Regions from separate parts of the Homo sapiens genome. Here regions 2 and 3 are each linked to region 1. The links come from fine-mapping of genetic effects on gene expression. A gene starts in region 1. Each other region holds a variant in brackets. All regions are shown on one strand. Distances are between the middles of the regions.

Evidence for each region. PIP is the estimated chance that this variant, and not a neighbour inherited with it, causes the effect. A credible set is the group of variants that fine-mapping cannot tell apart.
Region 2: its variant is the best candidate, but not a certain one, in a credible set for the expression of TFCP2 in whole blood (INTERVAL, PIP 0.71).
Region 3: its variant is the best candidate, but not a certain one, in a credible set for the expression of TFCP2 in whole blood (TOPMed, PIP 0.68).

What each region holds. Positions count from the first base shown.
Region 1 is chr12:51,170,559-51,174,779 of GRCh38, reverse strand. TFCP2 (transcription factor CP2) reads left to right here and starts at 1,645. Exons shown (of 15, transcript NM_005653.5): 1 at 1,645-2,479. The coding sequence starts at 2,358. LOC124902933 (a long non-coding RNA gene) reads right to left here and starts at 225. Exons shown (of 2, transcript XR_007063307.1): 1 at 97-225. RefSeq lists enhancers at 1,323-1,372, 1,465-2,212, 2,313-2,362.
Region 2 is chr12:50,953,992-50,958,212 of GRCh38, reverse strand. HIGD1C (HIG1 hypoxia inducible domain family member 1C) reads right to left here. Exons shown (of 5, transcript NM_001109619.4): 3 at 4,121-4,221. The coding sequence starts at 4,214. It also overlaps a transcript of SLC11A2 not described here. Among named protein-coding and RNA genes, the nearest start is that of HIGD1C, 3.6 kb to the right of the region's middle. The variant G/A (reference allele first, on the strand shown) is at 1,711.
Region 3 is chr12:51,197,902-51,202,122 of GRCh38, reverse strand. POU6F1 (POU class 6 homeobox 1) reads left to right here. Exons shown (of 11, transcript NM_001330422.2): 4 at 2,255-2,376; 5 at 3,348-3,573; 6 at 4,100-4,221. Among named protein-coding and RNA genes, the nearest start is that of POU6F1, 18 kb to the left of the region's middle. RefSeq lists an enhancer at 1,810-2,309. The variant C/T (reference allele first, on the strand shown) is at 2,594.

The DNA of each region.
Region 1 (4,221 bases):
CATTTTGAGATAGAACTGGCTCATGGGAAGAAAAGATGGCTTAAAGAGATACTGAATGTCTCCAGAATGAGCTAAGACTTTGATCCTAGGGCTTACCAAGGTAAGACGGCAGGTTTAAGCCTGGAGCCTTCAGAGAGATGCCTGTGGCTGAAACACCCCATACCAGCACAACATGTTGCCATCTTCATGTCAACTTCTCTCTTTTTCTTGGTTCTCTTATTCCTTTTTCATTCCTTTTTAAATTCAATAAACATGTTTAAAAGTCCTGTTGAAAGCAGGAACTATAGTAGGAGATATTTAGAACGCAAGCCTGAAAAAGACCTATTCCTTATTCTTTAGATCAATCTAGTGAGAGAGGCAGATATATACAAAAGTATAAGTCAAGGCAGATTTTAAAAAATTCAGCAACGGAATACAACAATGAACCAAGACTTTCACATAAAGGCAATGTCTTGTAACGAAAAATGCCAGGCTTTGGAATCAGCTCTGAAGCTGGCATGTCAATTTAGCTCCGGCCAATTTAAGGGCTTAGCCTTGGTTTCTTACTGATAAAATAAGAGTCATTAAATTTAGCTTTATAATTCTAATTCCAAGATCGCTTTGAGGACTACTCATAGTGTAATAAAGTTCCTAGCAGTAGTTGATACTTAATAAACAATGGCCATTATTACTCAATCCTCAAAGGAGGAAGGTGGAGCAGATAAAGTTACTCCCACTCCCGTTTACAAACGAGGAAGCTAAATCTGTGACATTAAGCAATTGTTCTGAAGACACCAAAGTAGCAAATGAAGACGCCAGCCTAAACTCTGATTTTCAGATCTTTTAAATTCCAACACCCCATACCAGCACAACAACCTTTTAAAAACCACTGTTTTTTTTTTTTTTTTTTTTTTTTTTTTTTTTTTTTTTGAGACGGAGTTTCACTTTTGTTGCCCAGGCTGGAGTGCAATGGCGCGATCTCGGCTCACTGCAACCTCCGCCTCCTGGGTTCAAGAGATTCTCCTGCCTCAGCCTCCCGAGTAGCTGGGATTACAGGCCCGCGCCACCACACCTAGCTAATTTTTGTATTTTTAGTAGAGACGGGGTTTCTCCATGTTGGTCAGGCTGGTCTTGAACTCCCGACCTCAGGTGATCCGCCCGCCTCGGCCTCCCAAAGTGCTGGGATTACAGGCGTGAGCCACCGCGCCCGGCCTAAAAACCACATTTTTACTGATCTCATGCTTTTCTGTTCAAATGCATTAGAGAGGATGCCGAAGATAAAATGAATATACAGGGAAGTGGGACTTATGCAGGGTCTTGACCTCCGGAGAGGTGAGTTTAAGGAGACAGGAGTATGGGCAGGAGCAAGCGCACACACGTAAGGAGCGTTTGGGAAGCCGTCAAGAGTCCGCCAGGGGTGGAGTGGGTTCATAAGGCTAGAAGAAGGGCTCCTTCCATGGCTCAGGGTGACGACTTGATGGGTAGCGAATACCAGAACTCTGGTAACTACACGGATACACGTTTAAACCCGGACACTTGCACGCCGGGTCCTCCCCGTGATCGCCCAGCCCATCTCGGGGGCAGAGCCGTGGCGCAGCCCGCCTATCATCGCTGCCGAGACTGACGCGGTCTCTTCTTTATAGGCGAACGACAGCGTGACGTCATGTTCGCCGGGCAGGCGAGGAAAGAGGACGCCATGATTGGTTGGCGCTGGGGCGGCGGACGGTGGAAGGGCCTGGCGAGTCTAGGTTTTACGCCTGTGCTGGACTTTCTCCTTCCATGTTTCCAGGCCGTGGGGGGCTACAGAGGGCGAGAAGTCGGCTCAGCGGAAACCTGGATTTGGTTCTAAGCCGTGGGGTTGAGAAGGGGTGACCGGAAGTGATCGTGGGACTGACCGGAAGCGAGGCCTGGAGGGGAAAGAGAGAGCGAGACCTGGGAGGGAGGGGGCCTCCAGCAGAAAGGGGCGGGGGAAAAGGTGCAAAAGCAGCGTGGGAGCGCCGGGCTGGCTTCCTGCGGCTGCTGCTGGTCTGACTGGGAAGCAGCAAGCCACCACTACGAACTCTCAAGAGGAGTGGGAGTGCGGGAGTCCAGAGCTGCCTCTGGGAAGTCTGCAGTAGTTGAGCAAAGGGGTCCTCACGTTCCTGAGAGCTGGGCAGGGGGGATTTTGGAACCTGGGGCAGCCAAGAACGAGCAGCCAAGGGTACGGGAGATTAGTTGTGCACAGAGCAGTGCTGGTCGGGCTTGGGGGTGGCTGGTGGGCACTGCGTGGGAAACCTTGGTTTGTAGTTTTCTTGGTTTGCGTTACTCCTGTTGGGTAGAATTACCCTCCGCGCCTTTGTACAAGACACGGTGTCTCCTGGGGCAAGGAAGGAGCCAGGATGGCCTGGGCTCTGAAGCTGCCTCTGGCCGACGAAGTGATTGAATCCGGGTTGGTGCAGGACTTTGATGCTAGCCTGTCCGGGATCGGCCAGGAACTGGGTGCTGGTGCCTATAGCATGAGGTGAGTGAGATTTTCCCAGACCCTACACCTTCTGAATAACAAAGGCGGATAGACACTAAGAAAAGGGGTTGAGTGGGAAGGAGGTGTATAGAGTTTTAAAAAGCTGTTTACGATTGGGGAAAAGGGACTTGTTCTTTTGTCGCTTTGAGTAGTTAGTGTTGTGGAAGAAATGGAAAAAGCGATTGTAGGCGATATGAAGCCTGTGCAGAATCAGTGGAAGAAGGAAGTGGTCCCTGATTAGTAACCAGATGAATGTTGAGAGGCTTTTGTGCCAATGTGGGAGACTTGGGGACTGATGGTGTATGTGTGGGTAAGTCTGACGTTGTGTGAAGAAGGGTTACATATAGCATAGGAATGGTATCTAGGAAGTTGGGAAATTGGGAGCTGGTGCTTAATGATGAATATTGGTTCGTTTCTTGTTGGAAAGATATGGAAGTCCTTGATGAAGAAGTCCGTACAGCTCTATCTTACCACTAGCTTGCTTTAAGACTTTACTTAATTCTGGGATTTCTGACTTTTAAAACATAAGCTGTGAAATGAAAAAGTGACGAAGAAAACTTAAGATGCTTCTGGATCTTTATGTATCAAGCCAGTTGTTGATAACAGATGAAAAATCTCCTTTCGGCCGGGTGCGGTGGCTCACGCCTGTAATCCCAGCGCTTTGGGAGGCTGAGGCGGGCGGATCACTTGAGCTCAGGAGTTCGAGACCATCGTGGCCAACGTGGTGAAACCCCGTCTCTACTAAAAATACAAAAATTAGCCGGGTGTGGTGGCGCGGGCCTGTAATCCCAGCCACTCGGGAGGCTGAGGCAGGAGAATCGCTTGAACCCGGGAGGCGGAGGTTGCAGTGAGCAGAGATGGTGTCATTGCACTCCAGCCTGGGCAACAAAGTGAGACTCCATTTGAAAAACAAAGCAAAACAAAACAAAAACTCCTTTGAAAGCAACATTATTGCCTATATAACTTGTTGCATGCATTGGCTGCTTCATTCCTCCAGTATAGTTTATTTCATTTATAGATGTGTAAGAATCCTGTATGGAAATGTTGAAACAGCTGCATCTTAGGGGTAGATGGACTATAATTGGGTTTCCTAATGCATTATTAAGACTTAATCTAAATAAGTGAGTCAAGAGACTAGAACTTAACATTTTCATTGGGTTTATGAGTTCATAGGGGAAAGATGCTTTTTAGGGGGAAAGTAGATGCATTTTTCATTCTGATAATGAGATCTTTTAAGAGTTATATAAAGTTCCTTTATTCCTGCCAATTCAAAGTAGACTTACCTCACTGAAGTAAAATTATGAGTTAGAATTTAATACTTCAGGCCGGGCACGGTGGCTCATGCCTGTAATCCCAGCACTTTGGTAGGCTGAGGTGGGCGGATCACGAGGTCAGGAGTTCGAGAACAGCCTGGCCAACATGGTGAAACCCCGTCTCTACTAAAAATTCAAAAAATTAGACGGGTGTGGTGGCGCACGCCTGTAATCCCAGCTACTTGGGAGGCTGAGGCAGGAGAATTGCTTGAACCGGGAGGCGGAGGTTGCAGTGAGCAGAGATCGCATCATTGCACTCCAGCTTAGGCAACAAGAGTAAAACTCCGTCTCAAAAAAAAAAAGGGGGAGAGAATTTAATACTTCAGCATCTTCAGGAATCTTTACTTAGAATAATAAAGACTATTATTCTAAATAATAATCATGCCTGTAATCCCAGCACTTTGGGGGGTGGAGACTGGAGGATCTCTT
Region 2 (4,221 bases), 220 kb after region 1:
AAAAACCTTGCTGGGGTTTTGACAGGAATTACATTAAGCCTGTAGATAAACTTGGGGAGAATTGACATCTTTACCAATATACAGTGCCTTCCAATTCAGGAACACAGGATCAGGCATGGTAGCTCATGCCTGTAATGCCAGCACTTTGGCAGGCCAAGGCAGGCATATCACTTGAGGTCAGAAGTTCGGGACCAGCCTGGCCAAAATGGTAAAACCCTGCCTCTACTACACACACACACACACACACACACACACACACACACACACACACACACCTCCAATTCATGAATACAGTAGTCTCTCCATTTTTGTTTTGTTTTTTTTCTTCAGACAGGGTCTCACTCTGTTGCCCAAGGCTGGAGTGCAGTGGCATGATCTCGGCTCACTGCAACCCCCACCTCCAGGGTTCAAGCGATTCTCCTGTCTCAGCCTCTTGAGTAGCTGGGATTACAGGTGCATGCCACCACACCTGGCTAATTTTTGTATTTTTAGTAGACATGGGGTTTTGCCATGTTGGCCAGGCTGGTCTCGAACTCCTTACCTCAGGTGGTCTGCCCACCTCGGCCTCCCAAAGTGCTGGGATTATAGGCGTGAGCCACCATGCCTGGTTGGTATTATGTTTTTAGTTTCAGTTTCCAGATGCTTCTTGTTAGTATATAGAAATGCAAATTTTAATCTAAATGTAAGGATCGATTAAAAGAAGAAATGCAGGCTGGGTGGGCATGGTGGCTCATTCCTGTAATCCCAGCACTTTGGGAGGCTGAGACTGATGGATCACTTGAGGTCAGGAGTTTGAGACCAGCCTGGTCAACATGGTAAAACCCTGTCTCTACTAAAAATACAAAAATTAGCCAGGTGTGGTGGCGCATGCTTACTCAGGAAGCTGAAGCACGAGAATCGCTTGAGCCCAGGAGGTGGAGGTTGTAGTGAGCCAGGATTGTGCTATTGCGCTCCAGCCTGGGCGACAGAGGGAAACTCTGTCTTTAAAAAAAAAAAGAAAAAAAAGCAAGTAATTTTTATGTGGATAGCATGTTTGGAATAACTATGTTGGCATATGTGTGTCTATGGGTGGGTAAGGATATATTTATTCTTTCATGATCCATTTAATAAATGGAAATAAGAATCAGTAAATCATTACATTTACATGTATATTTTATACACTGATCCACAATAAATAAAAATGACTAATGTGCTACAGACATAAAAACAGCAAAAAAAAAAATAACAAAATGATGATGGTAGACATATGAGGAAACAGGTAAAACCCTGAAAGCTCTGTAAGTTTGGCCAAGTCCTTCTAGAAAGAACTCTGGAAATATATAACAAATGATATTAAACTGAACATGCTTCCTGCTCTGGAAATTCTACTTCTGGGAACATACTCCAAGGAAATAACCAAAAGAAAAATCAAGAAAATGACACAAAGATGTTCAGGGCTACACTATGTTTGAGGAAAACCTAAATAACCCAAACAGAAGAAAAACTGCCATTGCTATAAAAATAAATAAGAATAGGGAGTATTAATACACAGAAATGCACGTATGAGCTGTTAAGTGAAACAAGCAAAGCCAAATAATCTGTCAACACATACTTTAAATAGATATAATGCATGCAGAGACCTTAACAGTGATTGTAAGATGATTTGAACAGTGTAAATATATTTATAATGATGGAAGTTGCTTAAGATAACCAACAAAAAATGTTTTGTAA[G/A]TTACCTGCATAGGACCCTCCATCCTGTAGCAGGAAAATACATAGTAGATATTGTTAAAATGACAATAGCTAAACAAATTATTCAATGATATATATCCAATTTTTTTTTCTAAGATGGAGTCTCGCTCTGTTGCCCAGGCTGGAGTGCAGTGGCGCAATCTTGGCTCACTGCAACCTCCACTTCCTGAGTTCAAGTGATTCTCCCGCCTCAGCCTCCTGAGGAGCTGGGACTACAGGCGCCTGCCACCACACCCAGCTAATTTTTGTATTTTTAGTAGAGACAGGGTTTCACCACATTAGCCAGGCTGGTCTCAAACTCCTGATTTCAAGTGATCCACCCACCTTGGCCTGCCAAAGTGTTGGGATTACAGGCATGAGCCACTGTGCCCAGCCTACCAAATTTTATCATTATTTATTTTTTAGCAAAAACTTATCTCTATTCCCTTAATCAAATGAAAGTTCTGTTCTTACTTAAATTGGTTTTGTTTCTTTTGGAGATTAAAGTCAGAACCTTTACTGTTTTCCATATAGTGTCTCTAGTTTGTTTATAATTGAATTTAGCTGGAAACACTTTTATCTTTCCACTTTAATCATCCTAAATGTCTCTGGAAAAATAATTTAATATACAACAGGCACAGTGGTGCGTATGTCTCTTTGTCTCTGTTTATTAATTAATTTCTGTTCATTATAGTGATCTGTTCAAGTAGCATTGAGTTTTCGAATTTTTTTTAACTAAAAATGCTAAGGAAGATAAATCACTATTAAATTATTTGCTTCCATTTCTTATGGGTGCTATTATAAGTCTTAAAACTTCTAAACAGAATATTACTGTAAAGTAAAATTTGATTCTTTCTTGATATGTGAATAATGACACTTAGGAAGTTGCTAGAGTCAGAGTAACACTTAACGGGAACATCTGACATACCTATTTAGAAGTTTTTATGGAATTAATATTTTTGCAAACTTATGTCAGTCTGATTTAAGTAAACTATTTTAATAGTTTCCAGACAAAATGAACACAAGGAAACAGGCATGGCTGCAGTATACATCCATGGAGAAGAAAGAGAAAGCTCAGACTTCAAAACATAATATTGGTGCTTAGGTTTTGTGGGGTTTTTTAAAGTCCACATACACATAATACTTGTTGAAAATGTAAACATACTAAATATGTGTGGGGAAAGGATAAAGAGGCTAAGGGTCCAGATTATTAGGTGATCTAATTATAGTATCTCTCTTTTTTATTTTTTGAGATGGAGTCTCGCTCTGCACCCAACCTCTACCTCCCGGGTTCAAGTGATTCTGGTGCCTCAGCCTCCTGAGTAGCTGGGATTACAGGTGTGTGCCACAATGCCCAGCCAACTTTTTGTATTTTTAGTAGAGATGGGGTTTCACCCTATTGGCCAGGCTGGTCTTGAATTCCTGACCTCAAGTGATCCACCTGCCTCGGCCTCTCAAAGTGCTGGGATTACAGGAGTGAGCCACTGTGCCCGGCCTAATTATAGTATCACTTCTTTAGTCCAGAATTTATTTTGCCATCAAACTCAACACCTGGAGCACACCAAGAAGCCAGCACAGAGGGCCACTGAGCAGCCAAAATGACCACTCCAAAGTTCATGCTCACAAGTGTTCAGATAGATCCAGGCTTTTACTCAGAGCTTTCCTCTGAATTGACCCACAGTTCTTTCAAGCTTGGTTATCTAGCTTCTGGTGCTACAGAGCATTAAAAACATTAGATGCAGAAGTTTTTGGTTTTTTGTTTATTTGTTTGTTTGTTTTTGAGACAGGGTCTCACTATGTCACCCAGGCTGAAGTGCAGTGGTGTGATCTTGGCTCACCGCAACCTGCACCTCCTGAGCTCAAGCAATCCTCCCACCTCGGCCTCCCAAAGCGCTGGGATTACAGGCATGAGCCACCGTGCCCGGCCTAGAAGCAGAAGTTTTTAATGTGCCCAATAGTAAGATAGAAACAGAAAAATCTATAAACAGAAGATGTAAGAACTTAAAGTTTAGATTACTTACAAGACAAAGAGACATATGCATCTCAATAGTCCCTAATAGGCTTTAAATATAATAAACTGATGCTGCTGTTGATGGTCCTGAGTTATGACTGAAATGTTAATATTCATTCAATCTATTCCATTTGACTGGCTAGGAACTAATAATTTTAGGTAGACTTCTAATGAAATGGATAAAATAGAATAAAATTTGATGCCTCAAATAACAGCTAACATTTACTGGGGGCTTACCATGTATTAGGAACTATTCTGAAAGTTCAACACATGCTTAGAGGAGGTTAGCTTCAATTATCTGAAAAAATTCAATTATAAGAAACATTTCAATCCGCAAAGGCACTGGGTAAGGCATCATTGTGTTATTACAGTTTTCTGCATCCAGTCAAGGCTTGTACTTACCTATAGGGACAAAGGGGGAGTCTCTAGATTTCCTGATTAGTCGGGATAATTGGCCTTCATCCTCATCTGCTGACCACTGGTTATCTGAAGACATTTTTTTC
Region 3 (4,221 bases), 27 kb before region 1:
TTGGGAAGCTGAGGCATGTGGATTGCTCGAGCTCAGGAGTTCGAGACCAGCCTGGGCAACATGGCAAAACTCTGTCTCTACAAAAAAATACAAAAATTAGCCAGGTGTGGTGGCACATGCCTGTAGTTCCAGCTACTCTGGAGGCTGATGTGGGAGGATCACTTGAGCTTGGGAAGTGGAGGTTACAGTGAGGCGAGATTGCGCCACTGCACTCCAGCCTGGGTGATAGAGTGAGACCTTGTCTCAGAAAAAAAAAAAAAAAAACAACTATATTGAGTGGTGCTGTGGAGAAACAGGTACATTGTTGATGTTTCTGTGAGTTCATTTAGTCTTTCTGTACAGTCTTGCAGGAAGCAATAGCAGCCCTAATGTATGTAAAACCTTGGACTCCATGGTCCTACTAAATATGCCCTAATAAAATGAATATTTTGCTTCTTTAGAGGGTAAGCTTTCATCATTTATGTTTGTCACTTTCCCATTTTCTCACTTACTTGTTATGCTTTGTCACATTTTGTCCAACAAAATGTTTTTAAAATTTTCACATGTTCAGACTCTCCTTATGTTTGCTAATTTTTTTGTTTTTTTTTTAACTCATTTTTATTTTTTCTGTAGAGATAGCATCTTGTTTTGTTGCCCAGGCTGGTCTGGTAACTCCTGGCTTCAAGTGATGCTACCACCTCAGCCTCCCAAAGTGCTGGGATTACAGGCGTGGGCTACTGCACCCAGCCTGATTTTTTTTCTGGAGTTAGAAATGTATCTTCCCTCCACAGAGGAGATAAACCTGTCATTTTGTTTTCTTTTACTATTTCATAAGGCCTTTGTTGGTGTGTGCTTGTCTCTTGAATTCCTTAAACTACCTGGGTTTTATTATTGCATGCTGTGAACAGTATAGTCCTGAGTTGAGGTTGACGCCTTCCCAAGTTGAAACATGGACTAGTACTGCAGGGTTGGACAGAACCTTTGCGGTTATCTGATTCAGTGGTTCCCACTCTTGGCCATATCGCAGGGGGAGCTTTGAAGGAAAAAAGAGAGGTGAGGTAACTAGCCTCCACTACTGGACATTCTGATTCAGTAGGCCTGGATTAAAGCCTAGAAATATATGCCCAGCAGTTTTAAGAAGCCATTGATCTGGCCAGGCGCGGTGACTCATGCCTGTAATCCCAGCACTTCGGGAGGCTGAGGCGGGCACATCACTTGAGGTCAGGAGTTCGAGACTAGCCTGACCAACATGGTGAAAACCCATCTCTCCTAAAAATACAAGAAAAAAATTAGCCAGGCGTGGTGGTATGCGCCTGTAATCTCAACTGCTTGGGAGGCTGAAGCAGAAGAACCCCTTGAGCCCCGGAGGCAGAGATTGCAGTGAGCAGAAGTCACACCACTGCACTCCAGCATGGGTGACAGAGCAAGACTCCATCTCAAAAAAAATTAAATTAAAATAAAAAGAAGCCAGTGATCTGGTCCTATATCCATCACTCAACTCCTAGGCTCCTTTTAACTAACCATATATTAAATAATAACCCTTCTCCTCGTTGTATGGCTGTGAAGAAGTTTCCTGGTGGGGTACCCCAGTACGTGTGTAGGCTAAGGTACCAAGAGAAGGCAAAAAGCTGCAGGTCACGGGAAATTCATTTAGAAGCTCACTGAAGCTGCTCACATGACTTTAGACCTCCGGGAATAGCAGAGAAAAGCTGGCTGTCCTGGAGAGCCCCTGTGATCCTGTAGTGCAGCACAGACCTGTCCAATTTTCAGGGACTGTTGCTTCCAGGACTTTGCCCTTCAGGAACTCCTGCCCTTTCAGCAGCTGCATCCAAAAGTACCCTGGAGGTGGATGAACAGCGATTCAGTGGCAGGATGAACCAAGGACAGCCGCTCCCATCATTTCTAGCTCCGGCCCTCCCTGACACACGTGTGCTTCAGACTCCTCTGTTGATGATGTGACAGTCCTTACAGGGCCAGGAAATGAGGGCTAACACTCACCTGGGTATCTTCTTCAGCTAGATGTGAGAAGGGGTGGCCTACCTCCCAGAGCTGGCACAGGGCTCCCCAGCCTCCTGTCCTCACCACCGTAGCATTCAGGAAGCTGCCTCATGGGCCAGGGAAGACCAACAATTGGTCTTGGGCTATGTAGCAATGCAGCATGGGGCTGAGGGTCCCCGCTTCAGGCTGCAGATGGGATGTCATGTACTGCTGTGGTGACCCCTCCACTCACGTCAGGCTCACTCCTTGTCCTTCTTTCTCTCAATGCCTTGTGAAGTGAAGTCACCCCCGGGGATCCCTCCGAGCCCTGCCACTGCCATTGCCACCTTCAGCCAAGCCCCAAGCCAGCCTCAGGCATCGCAGACCCTGACGCCACTGGCTGTACAAGCTGCCCCCCAGGTAAGGGCTGCCCTCGGGAGCTGGACAGAAGGCCGGGGGCAGGAGCGAGGCATGGGACAGCCAGCATGGGGAAGCCATGGAATCTGGGAACTTCATGGGGGCAGGACAGGGAAGGGGCTATGGCTTGAGGGAGGGACTCTCCCACTAGGCACATCCAGCCTCACCCCTGCCTAGATCAGGCCCATTTGGAAAAGGGGATCTACATTTGCAGAATCAT[C/T]TCCTTGGGCCTGCCAGGATTGCAGAAATAACATTAACTCTTTCACGCAGCCAGAGTTTCTGTTTATCAAATGACTAAATGAATGAATACCCTTGCCGGCCCTCCAGTGGATGCCTGTAAGAGTTAATGGATTGTTCAGAGTCCTCATTTAGAGCCAGGGAGTGGCCCCAGCACCATGAGAGGCTGCCTTCAGGATCCTGCAGGCAGGCAGAGCTCCCTGTCCCTTTCGCTACATTCCCTGACTCCAAGGCATCCAGCCAAGGGTATGGTCCTTCAGAAACTTCTCGGAGGCCTCTGTGGGGCCTTGACCACTTGGTTCCATTAGCCTCTGCGGGGCCTTGACCACTTGGTTCCATTAGCCTCTGCGGGGCCTTGACCACTTGGTTCCATCAGCCTCTGCTCCCTGTTCCCTGGCCACTAAGCACGGGGCCTGTCAGCAAGGGCTCGCGGAAGGCCTGGCAGGCAGCAGGCTGTGGTGGGGGAGGCCTGTGCCCCCTTCCCATCCTGTGAGCAGGGCCGCCTTGCCCTGGATTTAGGCGACTTCTCTGAAGGCAGGATAGTCGGTCCAGGCACCCCCTCAGGTTTGGGCCTCCAGCTAGGGTTTGGCTCTTCCCCATCCTCATGTGGCCTTCGGCCCATCGCCCTCAGAATGCTTTGTTTGTGCTCAGCTGGGTCTCAGAGACCCAGTGTTTGCGCTGTCAATGTTGATTTTTTATTTTTTCTTTTCTTTTTGAAATCTTGTTTGCTTTTGCAGGTCTTGACTCAGGAAAACTTAGCCACAGTTCTGACAGGAGTTATGGTTCCAGCAGGGGCAGTTACTCAACCTCTTCTTATCCCCATCAGTATTGCAGGTCAAGTGGCTGGTCAGCAGGGGCTGGCCGTGTGGACAATTCCTACAGCAACTGTGGCTGCCCTCCCAGGACTGACCGCTGCTTCTCCTACGGGGGGAGTGTTCAAGCCACCTTTAGCCGGTCTCCAAGGTAACGGCAACTCTTCCCAGGACTGCACCAGGCCCCCCACCCTCTACTACACCCCCGCACGTGTGCTTGCCATGTCGGACTCAGAACCCACGGCCCACCCAGGGCAACCGCCCTGGAGTCTGGATCCGGTGTCTTGGGCATCCGGCCGCAGAGCTGCTGCACCACCTCGGGACTGTAGGCCGTGACGCCACGCTGGCCCCGCAGGCCTGCCGTACTTCGGCCAGCTGTCTGAGACTGCCCCTCTCCCCCCACGCCAGAACTCACCCCATGACCGGCCTCCTGGGAAGGACTACAAGAAGATTCAACGTCTGGTTCTTGAACCTACACATCTCCTGGCCCCAGGGAGGGGGGATAAGAGATGCTGGCGTGCGCCAGCCCTTCAAGGATCAAGGGAATCGTGGCTGCCTGCCCCACTGAGCCCACTGCCCCAACCCCCTCTCCTTCTTGTGCCAGATCCCTTGGGATTGGAGCCGCTGTGAGCAGTGGCTAGGCATTTGAGCACCTCTGTCTCTGCCTTGCTCCATAGCAGCTGCTGTGCTGAACACCGCTCTTCCGGCACCGGTACAAGCTGCCGCACCAGTACAGGCCTCCTCGACGGCCCAACCCCGGCCACCAGCCCAGCCCCAGACGCTGTTCCAGACCCAGCCG